Regions from separate parts of the Homo sapiens genome. Here region 2 is linked to region 1. Evidence: fine-mapped expression QTL. A gene starts in region 1. The other region holds a variant in brackets. All regions are shown on one strand. Distances are from middle to middle. Region 1 holds the start of LIN52 (lin-52 DREAM MuvB core complex component). Region 2 overlaps LIN52 (lin-52 DREAM MuvB core complex component).

Evidence for each region. PIP is the estimated chance that this variant, and not a neighbour inherited with it, causes the effect.
Region 2: its variant is fine-mapped to the expression of LIN52 in whole blood (INTERVAL, PIP above 0.99).

The regions. Positions count from the first base shown.
Region 1 is chr14:74,078,385-74,090,618 of GRCh38, forward strand. It overlaps LIN52 (lin-52 DREAM MuvB core complex component), which reads left to right and starts at 6,572. Exons shown (of 6, transcript NM_001024674.3): 1 at 6,572-6,609. The coding sequence starts at 6,591. It overlaps ALDH6A1 (aldehyde dehydrogenase 6 family member A1), which reads right to left and starts at 6,069. Exons shown (of 12, transcript NM_005589.4): 1 at 5,963-6,069. The coding sequence starts at 6,010. It also overlaps a transcript of BBOF1 not described here. RefSeq lists enhancers at 6,481-6,660, 7,601-7,690.
Region 2 is chr14:74,198,152-74,210,385 of GRCh38, forward strand. LIN52 (lin-52 DREAM MuvB core complex component) reads left to right here. Exons shown (of 6, transcript NM_001024674.3): 6 at 771-3,342. The coding sequence ends at 826. LOC105370564 (a long non-coding RNA gene) reads right to left here. Exons shown (of 3, transcript XR_944025.3): 3 at 10,710-10,800. Among named protein-coding and RNA genes, the nearest start is that of VSX2, 35 kb to the right of the region's middle. RefSeq lists a silencer at 4,022-4,222. The variant G/A (reference allele first, on the strand shown) is at 5,039.

The sequences.
Region 1 (12,234 bases):
GTCCTGTCTCCTAGGCTGGAATGCAGTGGCATGATCATAGCTCACTGCAGCCTCCATCTCCTGGGCTCAAGCCATCTTCCTGCCTCAGCCTCCCAAATAGCTGAGACCACAGGCACATACCACCACACCCAGCTAATTTGCTTTTATTATTTTATTTTTTTGAGACAGAGTCTCACTCTGTCACCCAGGCTGGAGTGCAGTGGTGCAATCTTGGCTCACTGCAACCTCCACCTCCCGGGTTCAAGTGATTCTCCTGCCTCAGCTTTCTGAGTAGCTGGGATTACAGGCATGTGCCACCACATCCAGCTAATTTTTTGTATTTTTAGTAGAGATGGGGTTTCAACATGTTGGCCAGGCTGGTCTCAAACTCCTGACCTCAAGTGATCTGCCTGCCTCAGCCTCCCAAAGTGCTGGGATTACAGGTGTGAGCCACTGCACCTGGCCACATTTTTGTATTTTTAGTAGAGACAGTGTTTCACCTTGTTGGCCAGGTTGGTCTCGAACTCCTGACCTCAGGTGATCTGACCATCTTGGCCTCCCAAAGTGCTGGGATTACAGGGGTGAGCCACCCCACCAGGCTGCCATTAACTCTTTAAGTTTCCCAAGGCTTGGTCCTAGGCCTTCTTTTCTTCTCATTCTGTATATGCTCCTTGGGTGATTTTATCAACTCTCATGGCTTAACTATCTAGATCCTGATGATGCCCAACTCTTTAGTCCTTGGCCAGTATTTTCCTCTTCAGGTGATACCCACGTAATTATCTTTACCACATCTCTATTTGGATGTTACTTGGGCACATGTTAAAAAAAGGTGGCTGGGCACAGTAGCTCACGCCTGTAATCCCAGCACTTTGGGAGGCTGAGGTGGGAAGATCACTTGCGTTCAGGAATTTGAGACCTGCCTGCACTCAATGGAGTACAATGGCGCAATCTCGGCTCACTGCAACCTCCACCTCCCGGGTTCAGGCGATTCTCCTGCCTCAGCCTCCTGAGTAGCTGGGATTACAGGCATATGCCACCACACCCGGCTAATTTTTTTTTCTTATTGTTTTTTTTTTTTTTCTTTTTTTGAGACAGAGTCTCACTCTGTCGCCCAGGCTGGAGTGCAGTTGCGCGATCTTGGCTCACCGCAAGCTCCGCCTCCTGGGTTCACACCTTCTCCTGCCTCAGCCTCTTGAGTAACTGGGACTACAGGCGCCCGCCACCATGCCTGGCTAGTTTTTTGTATTTTTAGTAGAGATGGGGTTTCACCATGTTAGCCAGGATGGTCTCGATCTCCTGACCTCATGATCCGCCCGCCTCAGCCTCCCAAAGTGCTGGGATTACAGGCGTGAGCCACTGCGCCTGGCCTAATTTTTTGTATTTTTAGTGGAGATGCGGTTTTGTCATGTTGGCCAGGCTGGTCTTGAACTCCTGGCCTCAAATGATCTGCCCACCTTGGCCTCCCAAAGTTCTGGGATGACAGGTGTGAGCCACGACATGTGACCTCTACGGATAATTTTAAAAATTAGTTGGGCATGGTCATGTGCACCTGTGGTCCCAGGTACTTGGGAGGCTAAGGCAGGAGGATCACCTAAGCCTTGGAGATTGAGGCTACAGTGAGCTGCGATTGTGCCACTGCACTCCAGCCTGGGTGACAGAGCGAGACCCTATCTTAAAAAAACAAAAACCAAAAAACAAAAGCAAAAGCTAAACTCTGCATCTTCCTTTTGCCAGTTTGCTATGCCTCCTATAGCCCACCTCTCGGTAAATAGGGCTACTCCTTAACAAGTTGCCAAAGGAGAAACCCAGATACTATTCCAATTCCTCCCTCTCTCTCTGCAGGGAAGCAAAAAACTCCTGGCAGTCTGTCCTAGAATTGTTTGAAACACATCACTCACCTCTAGCTGTCCTGCCATTATCCCAGTCTATACCATCATTGTCTCTCACTTGACCTTCCATAATAGCTTCCTAACACATCTCTCAGCCTCTAATGTTAAACTCTTTCTTTTTTTTTTTTTTTTTGAGACAGAGTCTCACTCTGTCACCCAGGCTAGAGTGCAGTGGCACAACCACAGCTCACTGTAGCCTCAATCTCCAGGGCTTAGGTGATCCTCCTGCCTTAGCCTCCCAAGTACCTGGGACCACAGGTGCACACGACCTCGCTCTCAGGCTCAAGTGATCCTCTTGCCTCAGTCTCCCAAGTACCTAGGAGTACAGGCACATGCCACCATGCCCAGCTAATTAAAAAAAATTTTTTTTTGTAGAGATGGGGCCTCCCTATCTTGCCAGGGCTGGTTTTGAACTCTTAGCCTCAAGCGATCCTCCTGCCTGGGCCACCCAAAGTGTTGGGATTACAGGCATGAGCCATCACACCCAGCCTACTCTTAAACTTTCTGAATCTAGTTTCCATCCCATAATCAGAGGGTCTTTCTGAAACATAAATCTGGTCAGATTATTCCCTTGTTTAAAATTCTTCTTTGGCTTTCCACTGCCCTTGGAATAAAGACTAATCCCCTTGATGTTGCTTAGAAAACGCTACATAGTATCTTTGCTTTTCTAGTTACATAACTGGCTACTTTCCTCCCTGTTCTCTATGCTCCTGCAATTTAACGTGTGTCTTGCTTTCTTTGCTCTTGCACATGCTGCTCTCTCTTGCCTGGCACTGTTTCATCTAATTTCCTTGGCTCATTCCTACTCCTTTAGGTCCCCACTCAGCCATCATCACTTTCTCTAGGAAGTCTCAACCTCAGGTCTATGGTAAGCAGCTGATTGTGAAGCTCATAAAGCACCCAAATTCCTTTATTTCTCATCTCACGCTATGAAATAATAGCTTGTCTAATGATTAACTTTCTCTCCTTTGAGGTCACTAGATTGTTGTGTCCCCAGCCCCTAGCACAATTCCTGGAAGAGAGTAAGTACTTAGTAAGCAATATTTTGCACAATGAAAGAATGAGTACTCGCCAAGCAATCATTTGATATTGTTTCAGTACTCTCAAGTTGGCAGACAATGCACTGATCAGCCAACTTGAGCATTCTAGGCCACTTAAATTTTATTTTTTCACTTGTATACAGCCTCCCTGCTGTTAAGAGGATGTAAAAAGCACTACATCTGGTATAATAGAACATATTCATATAGTTTTTTGACAGGTTCGATCTTCTATCTTTTCTTCATTTCCTAAGAAACACCCATTAGCATTGTTGCTGAAGAAACTATCCTGTGGCCAGTCACCCCAAACTGCTGCTCTCTAGATGTTTACTTCCTACTTGCTATATCCTTTATAAGGAACTCCTTCCTCTCCTGGTTCATGGCCTGCTAGTCCTGCAATACTTGGCTCTTTCCCTAGGTCCCCACAGTATCCCAGATACTCCTATTGTTTATCACTTATTGCAGTACAATAAAGGAGCTTTCAGTGAGCATTTTACTGTAAGCCTATGTCAGTGCCTAACATAGAAAGAGATGGCAAGACTTAAGTTCTGAATTTTCAGCCCCATCAGTTACTAGTTCGGTAACCATATCACCGACAGTGCAAGTCGCTACATCTCTTCAAGAGTAATTTTCTTGCCCAGGTGCAGCGGTTCGTGCCTGTAGTCCCAACACTTTGGGAGGCTGAGGTGGGAGGATAGCTTGAGTTTAAGAGTTCAAGACCAGCCTGGGCAACATGGTGAAACCCTGTCTCTACAAAAAATACAAAAATTAGCTGGCATGGGGGCACGATCTGTTGTTGCAGCTACTCGGAGGGCTGAGATGGAAGAATCACTTCAGCGTGGGAGGTCGAGGCTGCTGTGAGTTGTGATTGCACCACTGCACTCCAGCCTGGGTGACAGAGCGAGACCCTGTCTCGAACATTCCTTTATCTCTGCATGGGAGTGATAATATCACAAGGAGCAGAGAGAGGTTTTAGGTTAAGTTTGACTACTCTTCGTGGCAGAGAAAAATAAGCTGAATACTTAAAATAATTGAAAACATTAACTTTCTCCTCTATAAATCCTTTTGATAGTTCTCTAATATTCATGGCTGCCAAAATCGAGGTTTTTTTTTTTTTTTTTTTTTTTTTTGATGGAGTCTTGCTCTGTCGCCCAGGCTGGAGTGCAATGGCACGATCTCAGCTCACTGCAACCTCCGTCTTCCGGGTTCAAGCGATTCTCCTGCCTCAACTTCCTGAGTAGCTGGGATTACAGTCGCCCGCCACCACACCCGGCTAATTTTTGTATTTTTAGTAGAGAAGGGGTTTTACCATGTTGGTCAGGCTGGTCTCGAACTCCTGACCTCAGGTGATCCACCCACCTTGGCCTCCCAAAGTGCAGGGATTACAGGCAGGAGCTACAGCGCCTGGCCCGTAGGCTACTTTTTATCGAACTTTTAATCAAAGATTCACGTTACAACTCCTAGTTGGCTGAGGATTACTCTATCTGTTCTTTTCCAGGTCACTTCAGAAGTTTCTCCAAATGAATCAGAAAATACATAGTGTCTGTTTCTGAAATAAAAGTACATGGAAAGAGAGATTCTTCTCCTTGATGGAAAAGGACAAAATACTTTCTTAAGGTTCTCAATGACTCATTGTGATGGGAGGGGAAGAGGAGGCAAAGGAAAAAAGCCAATTTCAGTAAAAGATTTCAAGAAGTTGGTAAGAAAAATATAGGGTGGAAACTTTGTTTTCCTGCTACTAAAAAAAGATACTAGAACAGAACAAGGATCGCAGCAAGAAATATGAGTGAGGCCAGACCATCTGCCAAACCCTTCAAACTCATCCTTTCTACCTTCCCCATTAAATAGCATATTTAAAAATGAATCTTTGCTGACTCTGCCAAGAATCTTAAAACTGCCCAAGTTTCTTTACTAGAACTCACGGAAACCTGGTGAATACTAATATTACCTAAAAGCTCAGCAATATAGAGGAAATTCTCAGACTGGATGTAATGAATAAGAACGGCACTGTTGTTTCTTGCAGACTGTTTCTTGCCTGCGGTAAATCTTGCCACATACTCTAAATCCTTGGTAGGCCATGAACAGGGGAAAGACTATAAACAGAGTTGGAGATTACAGGCCTCAGGCATGCAACTCCTGTAGCTTTACCATTTCTCCTTAGGTTGGCTTCAGAGAGGACTCAATCCCCCAAGTGCAGAGATGAGGGTGTGTAGCACTAGAAGAGCTGATTTTGGGGTGGGAACTTAGACTTCTTGTCTTACCTGGCTCCCACTTTCTATCACCCGTTTTAAAGATGTTTGGTACCTTGAACATACATGGAACATACTGGTAGCTTTAACTGTGTGCCCTTATCTACCCTATCTATGTAGATGTGCCCTATCTATGTAAACTGTAACTTAGCTGAGAAAAAGTTTAACTCAAAGTTTTGGCAAGAAAGGGGACAGCCAGTCCATGGAAAATACAAAGAGCCACACTTAGGGAAAATAGCTTAGCAAATGGCTGCCTTTGGTGAAAATCTAGAGTCCACCTCTAGAAGGAAATTCAAAGTTCATACACTGACCCTCGCCCCTCGCGTCCCCCCTCCCCCTTACCTCAGATCACCACGGATAGTGAAGTAGGGTGGGGGAAGGGAGCAATGGCAAAGTGGACGCTCACGGCAGGGGACAGAGTAACCAAAAAGAGTAGTTTCTGGGGGAGAGAGAGAAGGCTGGTGCAGAGGTAAAAAGGAAAGACGGTGGGCGGATGGAGAGATGAGGGCAAGAGAGTGACAGCAGGGAGCGGGCAGAGCTGGAGAAGGAGAGTGGGCGAGAGCCAGAAAAGAGGAGGCTTAGGAGTAAAAGGGTAGAGGGCCAAGGGTAACAGCCCAGGGTTGGATCCGGGACCAGGGAGGTTATGAAGTGAGGGCTGGGCATGGGACAGGGCCGCACAGGTCGGGTAGGAGGTCTGGCCAAAAAGGGGTTGGGCCAAGAAGGTGGTCCCGCCCGAGGATGGCTCAGGGAGCGGACGGAAAGGATCCAATTCCTAGCTTCATGGTGCCTTGGCACCACCCTCACTCGCCTGCAGGATCCGGGCTCGCACTGCCGCCGCCGCCAATAGCGCCGCCATGGCTCTCGGCCGCCCTAGCTCCGCACCCCGCGCCTCTACTGCCCAGAAGCACTACAGCTGCCAGGCCTCGCCCTCCATCCTGCCAGGCTTCCTCATTGGTGGGGAGGACTATTTTCTCCAGCCAATCACTGGTCCGAACACCTGATTCCTCTCCTCACACCCCCGTCCTGGGGATAAGTGATTGGTTAGGAGCGAAAATGCTCTCGCCCTCTGCCACCTCAGCCAATGACGTAGGCGGAGGTAGAGAAGACGCCCCTGACTTGGACACTCCCTACCGAGCACACGGGGAAGACGCCCCCCTAACCTGGAACTCCGATTGGCCAAGGGCGGAACCGAGGCCCCACCCCCCCACTGAAAAAAGTAAATAAGACCCTTCAAGAATTTTGCAGTCGCTCCACCTCAACATCCGCGTAAGGGGCGTGGCTATACTTAGGGGCGGGGCTAGGCAAAGATTGCCCTATGAGGCGAGGGAATGAGACTGGGCTGCGAGTTGGGGATAGGGTTTCTCTTTGGGGGCGTGGCTTATGGAACCTCGTTTTCCCGCCGACGGTTGGCCACGTCACGTGACATGGGTTGGAAGATGGCGTCTCCCACAGACGGTAAGAGCCGGCTTAGAGATCTTTGCCTGCAGCCTCCTTCTTTGCTCTACTGGGAACATCCACTCTGTCTCTGCCCCTCGAACATACATTTCTTTCTTGGGCTCTTCTCCTTTCCCTTTTATTTTTTTTCTTGAGATCCATCGCCGTCTTCAGCTCACCGGTTCTTCACAGCAGCTCCGGAGGTGCCCAGTTTCCCCGCTCTGTACCAGGCGTGTGGAGGAGGGCACTAGGGAGGGACTCATTCTGGGTAAAAGGACAGGGGGGTCGCCCTGTGCCTTCCTTATCTCTATTTGGGCGAGGCTGAGGGTCGAGGAGGAGATGTTTCTGGAGGACGTGGCTTACTGTAGTTTTTTCCTTGGGGTACCCATTGAAAGGATCAGTTCTCTTCTGATTGAGCGCACGGATGGAATGATTCTCACAAACCCTCGCAGGGCTGCTGGCTGACCTCATCTCGATACTGAACCGCAAGAGAAACATGATCTCTCTCCTGTCTCCTCAGTTTGGGACCATTGCCGTGGCAGCAAGAGAAGCGGGGGACGTTCTCGGCCCCTCGCCCTGAGAGTCGCGAGGAGAATCAGTATTGAGCTTTTAAGTGTCGTCTTGCACAGGTCGCAACCTGTCTTCCATCTGCTTTACGTGTTGTTTCTTAAGGCTGAGTGAATTAACGATTTCTGTTTATATATTGTGTAAAATGCAAGTCATTTCAAGTAACAATTAAGTTGTTTTGGTATACTCCCATGCTTTTCCTCTTGGTTCTGCTTTAGAGAGTTAGGGTCTTGCAGTCATTTTTAAACTCATTTTTAGTTCTACCATCCTCATCCCAACTATATATCGATTTTATTGATATATAGGTTTCCTTCCCTTAGACAAAAACATTTTATATTTGGAAGGAATCTTGGAAGTTCATTGCAGGAATGAAGAAATTGAAGCCAAGGTGAGCTATATTAAGTACCTGCTACATGAAAGGCATAATGCTAGGTGCTTTGGGAGACCAAAAGATGACTCAAACATATAAACATTTTTTTTTTTCAGTTTCAGTTCTCTTTTTAGATGTCACCTCCCAAAGAGTCTTTCTTAGAACACAGTATCTGGAGTTGCCCTTTCCCACCATTATTCATTATCTCAGTATCTTCCTTGTCAGCATAGTTACTCTGTTAACTTTGCCCCTTTTGCGCTAGATTGTAAATTCCAAGTTTGTCTTGTTCATAGTTGGATCCAGGTTTAGCACAGTGCCTGACGAACAGTAGGTCTTTAATTAACATTTATTGAAAGATTGATTAGATATATGCAGAAATAATATATTACTTGATCTTAAGTTTTAAGTTTAACCGAGTCTTAAATTTTGTGAGCGCAGGTACATACTGTATTAGAAATTATGGCTGGGCGTGGTGGTTCACACTTCTAATCCCAGCACTTTGGGAGGCTGAGGCAGGCAGATCGCCTGAGCTCAGGAATTGAAGACCAGCCTAGACAACATGGTGAAACCCCATCTCTACAAAAAAATACAAAAATTATCTGGGTGTGATGCCACAAACCTGTAGTCCCAGCTACTTGGGGGGGCTGAGGCAAGAGAATCTCTTGAGCCCAGGGGGTGGAGGCGGCAGTGAACCATGTTCATGCCACTGCACTCCAGTCTGTGTGACAAAGCGAGACCCCGTCTCAGAAAAAAAAGAAGGAAAAAAAAAGAAATTATGGATGTTTGGAGTCAAAAGAGATTCTCCTGCCTGGGTGCGCTCTTGCAAAAATGTCCTTCTCTTGCCAGAAAGAAGGGCATTTAAAAAGTCAGGCAAGGGAATAGGGAGTTATTGTTAATGGGTACCAAATTTCAGTTTGGGAAGGTGAAAGAATTCTGGAAATGAATGTGATGATTGCACAATTAATGTACTTAATACCACTGAAATGTATACTTAAAAGTTATTAAAATGGTAAAATTTATGTATATTTCACCACAGTTGAAAAAAAAAGCCAAGTAATACAAGTAGAAGTAATTGTTATTAAACTTTTTAGTTTATTTTTAAATTGTTTTTACAAACTTTGGGGATTTTAGAGATGTGTTCCTTGAGTTTGATTTTTTTCCCCTGTCATCTCTCAATTTAGTTTCCTTTCTTTGGCCAGGAAGAGTATTAAAAACATTAAATTTGGCTTGGCGTGGTGGCTCACGCCTGTAATCCCAGCACTTTGGGAGGGCGAGATGGGTGGATCACGAGGTCAGGAGATCGAGACCATCCTGGCTAACACAGTGAAACCCTGTCTCTACTAAAAAATACAAAAAATTAGCCAGGCGTGGTGGTGGGTGCCTGTAGTCCCAGCTACTCAGGAGGCTGAGGCAGGAGAATGGCGTGAACCCGGGAGGCAGAGCTTGCAGTGAGCCGAGATCACGCCACTGCACTCCAGCCTGGGACAGAGCGAGACTCCATTGCAAAAAAAAAAAAAAAAAAAAAAATTAAATTTTTTTCCTTTTCTAGCCATCTCTATGGTCACTTTATTTGCACTCTTGATTTTTAAGTTTTCATTCTCATCTCTTACAAAGTTTCACTCCTCTCCACCTAATGTTTTCTTTTTAATCTGAAAAAATCAAGTCAAGCACTTTGAACTTAAATTCAGCTTCTAAATAAGTATCTCATTCCAAAATATTCCACGGCCTAGCTCTTTCACTTCTATTTTTAGTGTTCCACCTGTCACTGTCTTTAAAATTTAATTCAGATAATATTTATTTTAATATGTTTGTCATTTACTCTTTTGTCTTTTTCGTGATAAATTTGCTGGAGCGTCTTTGAAAAGGAGAAAACTGAAATTCAAATACAGCCATCTAATTACTTAATTTATGAGAGTAAGACTCACAGCAGAGTCTGAGTTCTATCCCAGACTGTGGTATCATAAGGTCACCCATGTAGGTTATTAGATTGTACCCCCAATAATTTTTTTTTAACTTTCTTTTAGAGACAGGGTCTCTCTCACTCTATTGCCCATGCTGAAATGCAGTGATATGATTATAGCTCACTGCACCCTCAAAGGCTCAAGCGATTCTCCCATCTCAGCCTCCTAAGTAGCTGGTACTATAGGCTCACACCACCATGCCCAGCTAATTTATTATTATTATTATTTATTTTGTTTTGAGACGGAGTCTCACTCTGTCACCCAGGCTGGAGTGCTGTGGCATGATCTCGGGTCACTGCAACCTCCGCCTCCTGGGTTCAAGTAATTCTCATGCATCAGCCTCTCCAGTAGCTGGGATAACAGGCACACGCCACCACACCTGGCTAATTTTTGTATTTTGAGTAGAGACGGGGTTTCACCATGTTGCCCAGGCTAGTCTTGAACTCCTGACCTCAGGTGATGCACTCACCTCGGCCTCCCAAAGTGCTAGGATTACAGGCGTGAGCCACCATGCCCCCACCTTATTATTTTTTGTAGAGATGGAGTCTCACTATGTTGCCCAGGATGGTCTCAAACTCCTGGGCTCAAGCAATCTTCCTGCCTCGGCTTCCCAAAGCACTGGGATTCCAGACATGAGCCACTGTACCTGGCCCAATAACTTTACTTTTGTTATGGTTGAACATTCCTCAGAAATCGGTAACAAAGAGAAGCTAATTTTTGGATGCTTTAATTAAGGCAATGTATTAGTTGAGTTCTTTACAATTAAAATGCCATTGGAAATTCCTTTGGAATATTTGGCAAAACAAATTCAGTTTAGAGAAAAGTACATTTTGTACGTATGTATATTTTCTGGGGAGTGAGTTCATTTTATTTCCCAGATTTCCAGAGATGTGGTTACCCAGAAAATGTTAAGAACTGCTGTTTATAGCATTAAATGAACTAGTTATGCAACTGGTTAGCATACTGAGCATACAATAAAAACTCAACAAATGTTAATATTGAGTACTACTGTGTGCAAGGGAAGAGTGGAAGAGAAATGATGTCAAAGAATTAGGTAGAGGCTGAGTAAGATTTTATAGAGTGTGGTAGATACACATTCACAGATTTAGCTGGGAGGAACTTTAAGCTGGAGAGAGACACGAACTGATTGACGTTTAAAAAAATCAATTCTGGCCTCTTTATGGAGAATAGATTCCGGGGGTGTGAAGGGGAAAGGGTAAGAATGGGAGCAGAGAGATCTGTTAAGAGGCTGTTGAAGTAGTCCAAGAAAGAAGTGATGGTTCCTTGGGTTATTTGATTTCAGGGTGTATTCTGAAGGTAGAAACGACTAGATTTACTCATGGATTGGTTATGGAAGGGTGAAGGAAAAGAATGCATGAAGGATGACATCTGGGTTTTTGATCTGAGAATTGGAATTTATGGTAGTGTTATTTCTTGAGATGGGAGAAGATTGGGGGAATATGGTTTTGAAGATAATTAGGTTTAAAGTTTAAGTGGGGATTTTTTTTTTTTTTTTGAGACAGGATGTGGCTCTATCACCCAGGCTGGAGTGCAGTGGTGTGACCTTAGCTAACTGCAGCTGCCACCTCTGGGCTCAAGCCATCCTTCCACCTCAGCCTCCCAAGTAGCTGGGACTACAGGCTGACACCACCACACCTGGCTAATTTTTTTGCTTTTTGTAGAGATGGGTTTTCACTATGTTGGCCAGGCTGGTCTCAAACTCGTGAGCTCAAGCAATCCACCCACCTCGGCCTCCCAAAACTGCTGGGATTACAGGCGTGCACCACTGCATCTGGCCTTAAGCAGTTTTTTTATATGTAAATAGAGAGGGATTCAAATAACCACTTGGACATAAACCTTTGTAGTTCTTTAGAAAGGTTGGGAATGGAAATATAAATATGGAGTCATTGGCATACAGATGAAGATAAAAGTCCTCATGTTGAAATAGGGGAGTTCCCTAACCGCAGGACATACGACAGGGGTGTGGCTTGTCTGTGTGCACTCAATCCTCTTATGGGAGAGGGAGCACGCAGATGGGCAGGTGTAGGAGTCAGGGCGAGCACTTTTGGGCTCCAGCCCCACGGTAGCATCTAGGGGTGGGTGCCTGTGACTCCCAAAGCCCAAGTGGGCATGTATAACAGTGCACTCTTTTTTTTTTTTTTTTTTGAGATGGAGTCTTGCTTTGTTGCCCAGGCTGGAGTGCAGTGGTGTGATCTTGGCTCACTGCAACCTCCACCTCCCAGGTTCAAACGATTCTCCTGCCTCATCCTCCCCAGTAACTAGGATTACAGGTGTGTTCCCCCATGCCTGACCAATTTTTGTATTTTTAGTAGAGACAGGGTTTCACTATGTTGGCCAGGCTGGTCTTGAACTCCGGACCTCAAGTGATCCACCCATCTTGGCCTCCCAAAGTGCTGGGATTATAGGCATGAGGCACCCCACCTGCCCTGGTGTTTTTTGTTTGTTTGTTTGTTTGTTTTTTTGAGATGGCGTCTCATTCTGTTGCCTGGGCTGGAGTACAGTGGTGCAATCTTGGCTCACTGTAACCTCTGCCTCCCGGGTTTAAGCAATTCTCCTCCCTCAGCCTCCTGAGTAGCTGGGATTACAGGCGCCTGCTACCACACCCAGCTAATTTTTTGTATTTTTAGTAGAGACAGGGTTTCACCACGTTGGCCAGGCTGGTCTCAAACTCCTGACCTTGTGATTCACCCGTGTTGGCCTCCCAAAGTGCTGGGATTACAGGCATGA
Region 2 (12,234 bases), 120 kb after region 1:
CTTTCTGAGATCTAAAATGGGAGACCTCTGGAGTAGCCCTTGTAATTGAGAAATGTTTTACTTTCATTTTGGAGCCTTATATGTAGGAAAGTAGCTGTATAAACCCACTTGTAACTATAGCATTCAAAGATTGATGGTGCTGAAAGCCGGAGAAAGACACATAAACCTTGGCTGGCTATATTAAATAGCTAAGGACTGACAATGCCAAGGGAGAGAAGACCAAAGCTCTATAAACCCTACTTTATGACACCATCCACAGATGAACTGCACTGAGGGAATATAAACCCTGTTATATTACAGTATCCAGGGACTAACACTGCTGAGAGATAGGGTAAATGATCTCTAATTTTGATTTGAGATTATAAATGTCCAGAGACCAGCAACCCAGAGAAGACTAATCTTGGTTGGATTTTAGGCTTCAAGAGCAAACCCCCTGAGATAGTGAACATGAGTATTAGGTTAGATTCTAGAGACAGAGATAGGTTTTGGGGGAATCCCCTGGTGATTTGTTTAAAGGTGGATGATAAAATCTTTCCCAGTCATTTGGCATGTATCTCAATTGCCAACTTCAGAATAGCTTTGTACAGTTTTAGTTGTCTATAGTGGTTTGTTTTTACCCCCTTTTAGGTTAGTTGGTGATGATTGAATCTGTTGTGATAGCAACTTGATATATAATTTAAATCAATCTGCATTTTTAAATTAAATCTTCCTATGATTCTTTTTTCCGATTTTAGGTTTTCATTGATCATTTGTTTGCTTTGTGATTCCAGCCAGAGAGATGACACGGGGGAAATTCCTCAATATTCTAGAGAAGCCCAAGAAGTAGCAGCTGCTTGCGGACAGGATGTCCTGGGGTCCGAAACCAAGCTCCCTTCCCGGTGCACCTCTAACAATGCACACCTCACTGCTTGCTTGGGAGAGGCCAGAGGGTGTACCTCCAGGACTGCCCTCTCCCCTGCTCCTGGCACTCTACACGTCTGAGGACATTCAGCAGCAAGAGAAGAATCTGCTCTACCCAAGGATCATTGCAGTTACTCAATCAACTTTCAGACTTGAACCTTCTTAGCCTCGGATATTGGTAACAGCTGAGGGCATATCATTCTTAAAGGTCGAAGTCCTGCTTTCTCATTTCTGGAAGTGATTCAGGAGCCCCAGGATCTTACGGTTGATTTGACTCAGTCATGGCAGTCAGTTGTGACATGTTGATTGGATGGGTTCTTTTGAATTGTTCTTGATCTCTTAGAAAGTGTTTACGATGTGAGGAGACCAGAGACCAAGTAGATTCTGGACCAGACCATGCAGCCTGACCTGTGAACTCTCCAGTATATACTAAGTTCCCAGAATCCCCAGCTGAAGAAACCAGAATCTTCTCGAAATGTATATCTGTTTTTTAAAACTTCTATACCTCTTATGATAGTCCCATTTGCTTTTCATTCCTTACTTCCCAGCCCCACCTTCTAGTTCTGACTTCGGGCAGAGGGATCCCTGAGTCCCTCCTGGAATTAGCTTGTATAGTGAAAGGCCCATCCAAGGTTGTCTAAAGACCAATGTGAAGGTGACAGAAAGGACTTTTGAGTTCTAATTAATCTGTTACAGCTTCAAGCAAGAAAGTCAGTATAGCCTGAAAGACAAGAGAAACGGGATGGTTTATAGGAGTTCCCATTTGGTTGAAAGCTAGAAGCCCTAATTGACCTTAAAGTAACATGCTATGGGATGGTGGGATTGTCCCCTCTGACAGCACATATGAAATAGTTCATCTATATAATAGAAACGCACACACACGAAAAAGAATCTTCTGACTTAAATACAACTTTCATGGAGTTCTTCACCACTTATCTGTCTCTGTTAAAATCTGAAAATCTAGCCCATGGCTAAAATCTATTATATGTGTTCTCCATATTTCTTGTATAAGCCAGTCCCCAGCATCTGATGTTTTGAGAAGTGCATGGAGTTTCCTAAACTTTGCACAAAAGAATATCCTGGGGCCGGGCATGGTGGCTCACGCCTGTAATCCCAGCACTTTGGGAGGCCGAGGCAGGTGGATCATAGGTCAAAAGATCGAGACCATCCTGGCCAATATGGTGAAACCCTGTCTCTACTAAAATACAAAAATTAGCTGGGCATGATGGTGCATGCCTATAGTCCCAGCTACTTGGGGGCCTGAGGCACGAGAATCGCTTGAATTCGGGAGGTGGAGGTTGCAGTGAGCCGAAATTATGCCACTGCACTCCAGCCTGGGCAACAGAGTGAGACTCTGTCTCAGAAAAAAAAAAAAAAAAAAAAAAAAAAAAAGAATATCCCTGTGGCAATAGTCTGATGGTGTTTGGACACAAGAAAAGTTATGGTTTTGAGTCGTGAGTGTTTGCTAGGGCATGGCACTCTTCAGTTTAACAGCTGATCCATTAAACCTTTTCTGACATTTGTGCCTTGTTCTCATGCTAGAATTAATGCTGGATTTTTCTCTCATTTGACCATCAATGTAGTTTTACTTATTGAAAGGAAAAAAGACTTAACACAAGATAGGAAAGATGAGTATGAGAAGTAAAACATTCTGCTGGGGTGCTACATAGAAGGTTAGGTTGTAGGGGCTTTGATTTTAATTTAAACTTATTATCGATTGATATTTCTGTATCTCACTAAATGCGGTTGAAGAGTGTGTGTGTGTGTGTGCGCGCGCGCATGTGGCCAAAAAATAGTGCCATAATGTCAAATTCTTCCTTTGCTCTGTTTTTGAGAGTTGATGACATCAGGCACTTTTCAGTGTTTGGGGAAATTGATTGGGATACCTCCCCCAAACCAACTCAAGTCTGTAACTGGAAGCCAGGTGGTTGGTTTTCTGGTCCGCTTTGTCCTCTTTCTTTTACCGTCATCCTATTCACCAGCACTTAATGTAAGTAGATGTTTTAGAATTGCAATATTTATTGGTTTAGTATTTGTCATCCTTAGAAATGTTAATGATGTATTTTTATATTGATAATATAAATTTATGTACAGTATGTGTGTATATGTATTTCAGGATGTTATAGTATTGTACTTTGTATGTGATGGTTTTTGTGTCTTCATAATAAATATGTCCCTTTTACAGGAGGGTGAGTTTTTCCTCAGAGGGCCGAGTTGGATATTTAAAGCACAGACCTCCCCAGAAAGTACAACTGTAATGATAAATAATCTACTGTTTTCCCCCTTAATATACTTAATGGATAGTTGGGGGCTTTACAGTCATCTACTTGGTCTCCTGCCTTCCATTCTATCCTACCACTGCCCAACACCCGAAAGTAGTATTTAGAAACCCTTAATACCTTCCCGTGTCTACTAATAAAGTCTCAATCTCTTGACCCGGCATTTTAAGACTCTCTACATGTAATCCTAAGCAACCCTTCCGTTTCGTTTTCTTCCTCTCCTATATATGAAGTCTCTGTTGCAGTTACTCTGAACAGTTCCCAGTTTCTCACTTGAGTGCCTTTGCTCCTGCCTTTGAGTTCCTAGAAGGTCTTGGATCCCTTTTGCATCTGGCAAACCTATGCTTCCTATAATCTCCTGATGATCCAGCTGGAAATGGTCCTTCCCCTACATTCCTATAGCATTTACCCATATCATCCCTGTGACTCTTACCATAGTCTGCCTTATATTTAAGTGGTCTGAGTACTTTTTCTTTTTGAGACAGAGTCTCACTCTGTTGCCCAGGCTGGAGTGCAGTGGTGCAATTTTGGCTCACTGCAACCTCTGCCTCCCGGGTTCAAGCGATTCTCTGCCTCAGCCACCCTAGTAGCTGGGATTACAGGTGCATGCCACCACGCCCAGCTAATTTTTGTATTTTTAGTAGAGACGGGTTTTTGCCAAGTTGGCCAGGCTGGTCTCGAACTCCTGGCCTCAAGTGATCCTCCCGCCTCGGCCTCCCAAAGTGCTGGGATTACAGGTGTGAGCCACTACGCCTGACACTGAGTACATATCTTATTGCCCTACTAAATTCAAAGCTTCTCAAGGTATAGCTGTCTCCTGCACATCTAGTTCTTCAGTGTCTTTGAACTAGGGGTTCAAAACCTGTTTGCTTGCAGGCTTCTGGTTACACATGATAGATTGAAAACAAGTATTTATCTGCCATCTTCTAAATCCCTTAGTGTGGGTTCCTTTTCAACCATGTTCAAGAACTAGAAAAGAGGAAGTACTCATTATTGCTACTGCTATCACTCATTGATAGTTTACCTGCTCTGGACCAGAATATGCCCTTTTAAAGAAAGCATTTCATTTTAAGGAAAGCAAATTGCTTCTCATCATAGGCCCATCATTTATTTCCAAAAAAGACATCTGGATGAACAGTAGATTTCTGTGATCTAGAAAAGCATGGCTGATTGACTAAGTAGGGACAGTGTTAGGAGTGTTCTAAGTCTTTAGAGACTATTTTTACGGTAAGTAATTGTTTATTATTTGCCTACAGATATTTTTTCCCTTTTCCTTTGCCATTCCAAATACCATCCTGTAAAGCATCTGTCAGCTGTGAGCAGCAACATTCTGAAAAGCATAGTATTGGAGCTTGGAGACACATTTGCAAATTCTTATTGACATTTTTTTCTTACCAGCACTCTCATTATTTCTTGCTGTCTTCAGTCTCACAGATTCTAGGCCTCTGCTGATTTGCTTGGCCTGCCTTCCATAGGTTAGAACACTTAAAGTTCACAGGGTATTAATTGTGTTGATATTGAAATGCCATCATTCATTTTTATCTTTCCATTTTTGTCATATTTTTTAAATGGATGCTTGCTAACTGCTCCGTGGTTTTAGTTCTCTAGCTGCTCTTCTGGATGCTCCCAGATCAAGGCAGTGAAAATGGAACTGATGAAAGTCATTCCCTTGTCCCTGTGGCTTCAGAAGTGTGTTTGGACTTCCACAGGAGCTTTGAAATGAAGCCGAGAAATTTCATTTCCAGTGGGATTCCCTGACCCCTCCTGTTTCCTCCAGGATTAAGACATCACAAGAAGGTGAACAGGCAGAGCAGGAAGTGAGGAAATGGACAGTTGGGCCAAGGTGGATGGTCGCAGAA[G/A]CCAAATAACACAGTCTCTTACCAGTTCTCAGCTTCTGCACTAACTCCGTCTCCAAGAATTTGGTTATGTTCTCCATTTTCTGTTTTCTTCATCTCGTGAGAGCTACAAGGATACCTGGTCCCTATGTGGGCTTTGTTTCACCAGAGAGTCTTGCAACCCCCAACCCCAGAGAGTGGCAAAGGGTGGTGTCTCCACGGTTGTAAGTTCTGATGGACTGGAACTGATTTTTCCTATCTATGTAGGCTTTTTGGCATTTGGGGTGTGTGTCCTTGTCTATGCCTAAAGAGGCCACTGGCCTTCCCACCCTTTGCCTGGCGCTTTTTCCTCTCGAGCAGCTGGGGGCTTCAGACGATACCAGGTGTAACTGTGAGGCTCCTGGTTGGCGTGAGTGCTGGCAAAGCCTGTTAATTAGCACAGAAACACCCCAGTGCTCCATTAGCTGGGCCAGGCATTTGGAACCTTCCCCTCCTGTGGGCCCCTTCCTCCTAATGAGAGCTGGAAGAAGGGCCCTCACAAAACACTGCCTCAGAATAATATTCTGCTTTGTCCCCACCAGTAACCAGGGCTGACAGGATCACTCTGTCCATTTCTCTTCTAATTAGCACAATTCCAGCATGGCCTGAGCCAGCAAATAGAGAAAAGCGATCAAAAGCGATCGGACAACCGTACCGAATCACAAACACAAAGAGGGCCATTCCCTGTAATTAGGTGAGACAATTCCTCAGTCTTTTCTCGGCTGGAGTTTGCCGCTAAGACTCTTGCTGTTTGGGTCCCAGCAACACAAGTTACATGTCTCCCTGGGACACTAATAAGCCCCAAATTGTCTTCCGCTTCACACAACTCTACCCAGAGGACAGACATGGGGTGGTGGGGCAGGTGGCGGGGAGGGGGTGGGGCAGTGCAGTGAGGGGACGGGTCTCCCAACAAGCAGCTGCTGCAATGTTTCCCCAACTTCAAGAAGCAGACACTGGGGCTGTGGGCAGAGAGGTAAGAGTCAGTTGGCTTGAGAGAACTGCTCTTGGCACAGCCTGGCCCCTGTCACTTGAGCTGGAGTCTGAAGCACTGAGAATTTCTGACCCTCAGGGGAAGCCCCCTCTCAGCTATTTGCCCTACTCTGTTCATTCGCTGCCTCCTGTCTATGGCCCCCTCACTCCTCCCACCTCTGCAGACTGGTAGCATCACTCCAGGAACTACATTGAGCCCTTCACAAACTGTAAGCCCTACACAACTATAGTTACCATTGCAAAGAAAGCTAACACACAGCACGTGAGTGAATTCTGCCCTAGAAGACTGCATGACCTGGAAGGGGCACCCACTGCCCCCCTCACTCTGGCCTTCATTTCTAGCACCCATCACCTTTATGTCCCTGATTGTGTCCCCAACCCCTGCCTACTATCTCCTCTCTCCTGAAAGATCCCTGTTTTTTTAAAACAGAAAAGTGGCCCATCTGCCAGGGCAAGAAGCTGTAACTGGCCGCGCTCCATGTGGCTCAGAGGTTGGTCACTTAATGAACAAAAACAGCTCCCCCAGGATTGCAGCCCATTACGGGGATTACTTGGGGCGATACAGCCGTAAACTTGGTCATAGCCAGGGACAAAGGAATGCAGGGGAGAGTGGCAGTTGGAATCTCAATTAAACCCAAGTTCGGAGCAGAATTGGGCTCACATATTTTCATCTCTCTCTTGCCCTCTGCTTTCTGTCTCGATCTCTATACCTGATGTTTCTGAAAGTGACCTCCAATACCAAAGGAGATTCAGTTATGTAGAATCTGAGGAGCCAAAAAACTCAAGTAATCAGAGTTGCATTGTTTTTCTACCTTCAGTTTTCTGAGGCACAGAGAGGATAATGATAAGATTTGACTTTTAAAAATAACTTTTGGGACATGCCAAAGAATTGATCCAAATTTGTTCAATTTCCTACAGTTTCTTTGGTTATAAACAGAACTACCTGGCACATAATAGGTGCTAAAATAAGCATTTGTTGAAAGAATGAACTGTGCCTTGACATTCGGTGTTCATAGCCTCATTGCTGGTCTAAGATATAGTAAGTGCTTGGATTTTGAGAGAGAGGCAGGGGTGATCTTGTGTAAGTTACTTCTCTCTAAGCCTTGGTTTCCTTAGGACTTTTTCCACTTTAAAGAGTCATATCAGCATCATGGATAAGGGCACAGGCTCTGAAGTCAGGCTGCCTGGGTGCAAATAGCACCTAACTACTAGGGTAGCTGTAGAGATTAAACGAGTATTGCAAAGTGTTGAGAATGGTGCATGGCATATCTTACCCATTACGTATATAATTGCTTGATGGATAGATCTATAAAACAGATTCCATGTAGTATTTAATTTTTTATTATACTCACATTTGTTAAAAATTGACAATCCCTAGGCCGGACATGGTGGCTCACACCTGTAATCCCAGCACTTTGGGAGGCTGAGGCGGGTGGATCACTTGAAGTCAGGAGTTCAAGACCAGCCTGGCCAACATGGCAAAACCCCGTCTCTACTATAAAAAAAAAATGAAAAAATACAAAAAAATTTAGCTGTGCAGGGTGGCAGGTGCCTGTACTCCCAGCTACTCAGGAGGCTGAGGGAAGGGAATTGCTTGAACCTGGGAGGCAGAAGTTGCAGTGATCTGAGATTGCACCACTGCACTCCACACTGGGTGACAGAGTGAGACTGTCTCACACAAAAACAAACGACAAACAAAAAAAACATTGGCAATCCCTATAGGGAAAATATAGTAACTTCTGGTTACCTTGACTAGTCAGTTAAGCAGAATACCATTTCTGTAACCCTTCAGAAGAGCTGACAGTTTACTATTTCTCCTACCCCCATCCTTCCACCCACTGAGGCCCTGTGCCAGCATGGACACTCAGTAGAAACCATTGTTGACTCTACAGACAGTGGCATTAAGCAAGGGAGGGAAAGGTATACTTTGTGACATTGGCAAGTTTCTGAACTGATACTGAACTTGGCATACATAAGCCTCAAATCACTGTACTTTGCTAATCTTTGTAGTCCTAGTATTTTCTGAGCATCCATGCTTTTCCAATCACTGCACAGGAACACACTTCCCTGTTTGATTCAGTCATAACCTCCTACCCCTAACCCACCAGTCCTCCACATTCCTCCAGATAGTTTTCTTTTTCCTTTCCCTTCCCTTCCCTTCCCTCCTTCCCCCACTCCTCCCCCTCCCCCCTCCCTGCCTCCCTCCCTCCCTCCCTTCCTTCCTTCCTTTTTTTGGTGAGACAGGGTCTCCCTCTGTCACCAAGGCTAGAGTGCAGTGGCACGATCTCAGCTCGCTGCAACCTCTGCCTTCTGGGCTCAAGCAGTCCTCCTGCCTCAGCCTCCAAAGTAGTTGGGACCACAAGCACGTGCCACCACATCTGGCTAATTTTTGTATTTTTTGCAGAGATGGGGTTTCGCCATGTTGCCCAGGCTGGTCTCGAACTCCTGGGCTCAAGTGATCCGCCCACCTCCGCCTCCCAAAGTATTGGGATGAGCCACTGTGCCTGGGCCAGATAGTTTTCTATGGTGTGAGATTTGTCAGGTTCTCGCAAACCTGTCAGGTCCCTTTCCAGGACTAAGCAGGGTCCACTCAGGCTTCTGCTCCCGCAGCAGCCTCCTCTGGGCTTTGCCTTCTCTGGGAGCCCATGGAGAGACCCTCGCCTGACTGCAGCCTGAGGCCTCAGGGTCAAGCGAGGCTGAAGGTCACATCCCAGGGCCTTTCTGGACGCAGCCAAGCCCCAGGAGCCAAGCTGGCCTGAGCCAGTGACTTCACACAAAGGAGCAGCTGAGAAGAGTCAAGTTGGGAAAGTCAGTGACTTGAGGCTGAGTAGAAATGAGAAGTGCTGGCTGTGGCAGGACCCATGAAGGATATGTGAGGATTGGAACCAGAAATGATCTCTGAGGAATGGTGGTCGGGGGGCTCATGGGGAAGCAAGGTCCTGCGAGCTGCTTCACCTTGGCCTCCTACTTCCCGCCATCCACCTCTGCTGCTGCTGCCTCTGCCTTCAAGTGGCCCAAAGGCTGTTCAGATGTGCAGCTGTTGAGTAAATCATGGTACATTCCCGTAGCGAACTGCCATGCAGCCATTTGGTGTGTTTGCAAAGAGGTTATGATATCATGGAAGAAATGGTTTTGTCATAAGGATAAGTGAAATGGCCAGATATAACAATTACAGTGGGGTGGTGAATGGAAGGCAATAGGCGAAGGTGGTAATAGTGCTTGCTGCCTGGTTGGAGGAATATGGGGTATTGTTGTTTTCTTCTACATTTTCCAAACTCTCTACGGAAACAGGTATTGATTTTATAATACAGGGAGAAAAAAGCCTCTGGGGCCGGATATACAGATTTTAAAAGCCCTGCTTCTCAGCTCAGCCTGTTATCCTGCACACATGTGCATACATACATAGTTCATCGATAACCTTTGTATATGGTAATGAAATTTGTTCTTTAGTATGCAAATGTATATCAATCTGTACACCAATAAGTGTTTACTGAGCACCTAATAAGCATCCAGCTATACCCTAGGATCTCTACCTCATTGCATGTAATGTGGAAAAAAAAAACTTGTTCCCTATTCATGACAGTCCCATCTCTCCCCACACTCCTCAGAGCCTTTGCCCAGGAGCAGAAAAAAATCATTCAGTCAGTAGGTGTTCAGTGTTGCCAAATAGCTATCTTTTTCCTCAGTCTTTCCTTACCTACCCTGAGAAAATATGTCTCACCTAACTTTGCTGTAGAGTCGTAGCGTTAAGTTTCCCCCAGCTCTTGGACATGCAGCATCTTACTTCAGATGTGTTTGCGAGAGTTTCCTTCGCTACTTTCTCCTTGCTTCCCTTCCCCTTCCCAATTGGAGAGAAGGAAGAAAAGATGAGTTGGGGGTCAGGAGTAGAAATGGGTCAGAGAAGAGTCTGTAATTATACTCATGTTTTCATCACAAACAACCAGTTGGAGGCGCTGCACAATCAGGAAAGAGAAGGAAGTGCATTTCATCTGAGTTGGAGTCTGGAAGACACAAGGGATATGTAGGAGGTGGTTCTCACTTTTATTGGGAGACAAGTGTGTATATAAAGTCAGTTTCCCTGCAGGATGAGAAGCATAGTCATGGAATTGCTAAAGAAGATATAAAACCCTCAGGACCAAATGACATGAGAAAATGGAGAAGAATTGACCTTGTCCCCAAGAAGTGACTTGACCACATCAGCCCCAGGTTCCCAGAATATACAAGCCCACACATCTGACTAGGCCTGGGCTAGAAAATGGGCGGAAATTGGGAGCACTCCCCATTTTCCTTGATAGAAATAGATGGAGCAATGAGTAAAATTCTATGCCTGCCACATCTGCTGCGTCCTCCACTAATGTATGCACTTGTCCATCCTGTTTTCCAAAGAGGGACTGCTTTCTGTCCAGCTCAGAAGAGCAAAACGAAGAAGGAACAATGTCAGCCATGTGTAGCCCTGAATCCTGCCCTACCATTGCGGTCGCTCTAGGGCTTTCAGCCAGAACTGGGGTGGCCAGATCTGATCAGTCTTCCAAAGGAGCGAAGAGCACTCCAGAACAGACAGCTGAAGCAGTTGTTACAGCAGCAGGATTGCAGGGCAGGCGACGCTTCACAACATCACCAAAGACTGATGCAAATTGGTTTGGTTCTGACCCTGTCACACCAGGAAGGATAATGACTCCAGCAGCGCCAGGCATGGGAGGGAGCACGTGGTGGGGGCTGTGAGGATTGGTGTCTCACTTCACATCTTCATTAATGATCTGAAAGACAGGGGTAAACAGCATGCTAATGAAACCTGCAGATGATTGGTGTTACAAACCCCAGAGAGGACAGAGAAATAGCACAACGAGACCCAGAGAGCTTAGAAATATGGGCAGGAGACTGTCAAATGAGACTCGTCCTAGGAAAATGAAAGTCGACACGTCAGGGAGGAATGATGAAGGTGCCTCTGGGTGGGGGCCTGCAAACCTGAAAAGCAGAGATGGGTGGCAGGGTCAGGAGGTTGAGGGATATGATAAGGTTTGGGGTGTGTTGGAGGGAGACAGAGGAGCTGACCTTGAGGACCCAGGGGACAAATACCCTTGTGCATTTCTGGTCAGGACTGACCATGGGGCCAACAGTTCATGCAGCTGGGGAACCAAGCAGGTTGTACTGGCCCATTGGCCTGTGTCAGCTCCAGGACCCCTCTGCAACCCAGGACCTCTGATTTCACAGTCACAAGCTATGCCTATTTGCACCCAAGCCATTAAGGCTAAAAGCGCCATTTTGACCCGACCTGCTATTTTCCTAAAATGAAACAAGCCAAAATACATCTTTAACATTTTGCACTAAATTATTGGGGAATAGGAAATTCAAGAGCAGAGAAAGCAAAAAATGTCCGTATTTTCAAGGGTTTCCCATTCAATAAAGATTTATCAGAGCGTAACTCATTTATATTAAATCTACAAATCTTAAGTGAACAGCTCAATGATTTTTTTCCTTGACCAAATCACTTCACTTCACCAAGTCTTGGTTTCCTCGTCTGAAATGAGCATAACAGCAGAACATATCTCACAGCTGTGTTGTAAAGATTAAATTAGACTCGGTAAAGCCCCTTGGGCACAGTAAGTACTCACATATGGGGTGATTATTATTACTGTTTATTATCCTCTAATTTTATTCCTTAAGCTTTACTCTTAGCTCCCTAAGTAAATGATTAATTTCTTGAAGTCAAGGACTGCCTTAAACTTCTTTTCAGCTCATGGGTGCTGAATAAATCCTTGTTTGATGGATTAATGTGTTAGAAAATTCTTTTCATATAAATAATTTTATTCTTACCTAACTCAGATCTACTTTAAATGAAATCACTTTCTTCAAAATAAAACAAAAACAAGTAAAATCCTTATATCACAAGAGTGTTTTGAAGACAAAATATTCTGCCTTGAGTCTATGTTAACACCATGTGCTGTCTGGTGAAATTTTAGGCCAGAGGAAATCCCAGCCTGATGATTAAGAGCTCACTTTTGGGGCCGGGCACGGTGGCTCATGCCTGTAATCCCAGCACTTTGGGAGGCTGAGGTGGGTGGATCACAAGGTCAGGAGATCGAGACCATCCTGGCTAACACAGTGAAACCCCGTCTCTACTAAAAATACAAAAAATTAGCCGGGCGTGGTGGCAGGCACCTGTAGTCCCAGCTACTCGGGAGGCTGAGGCA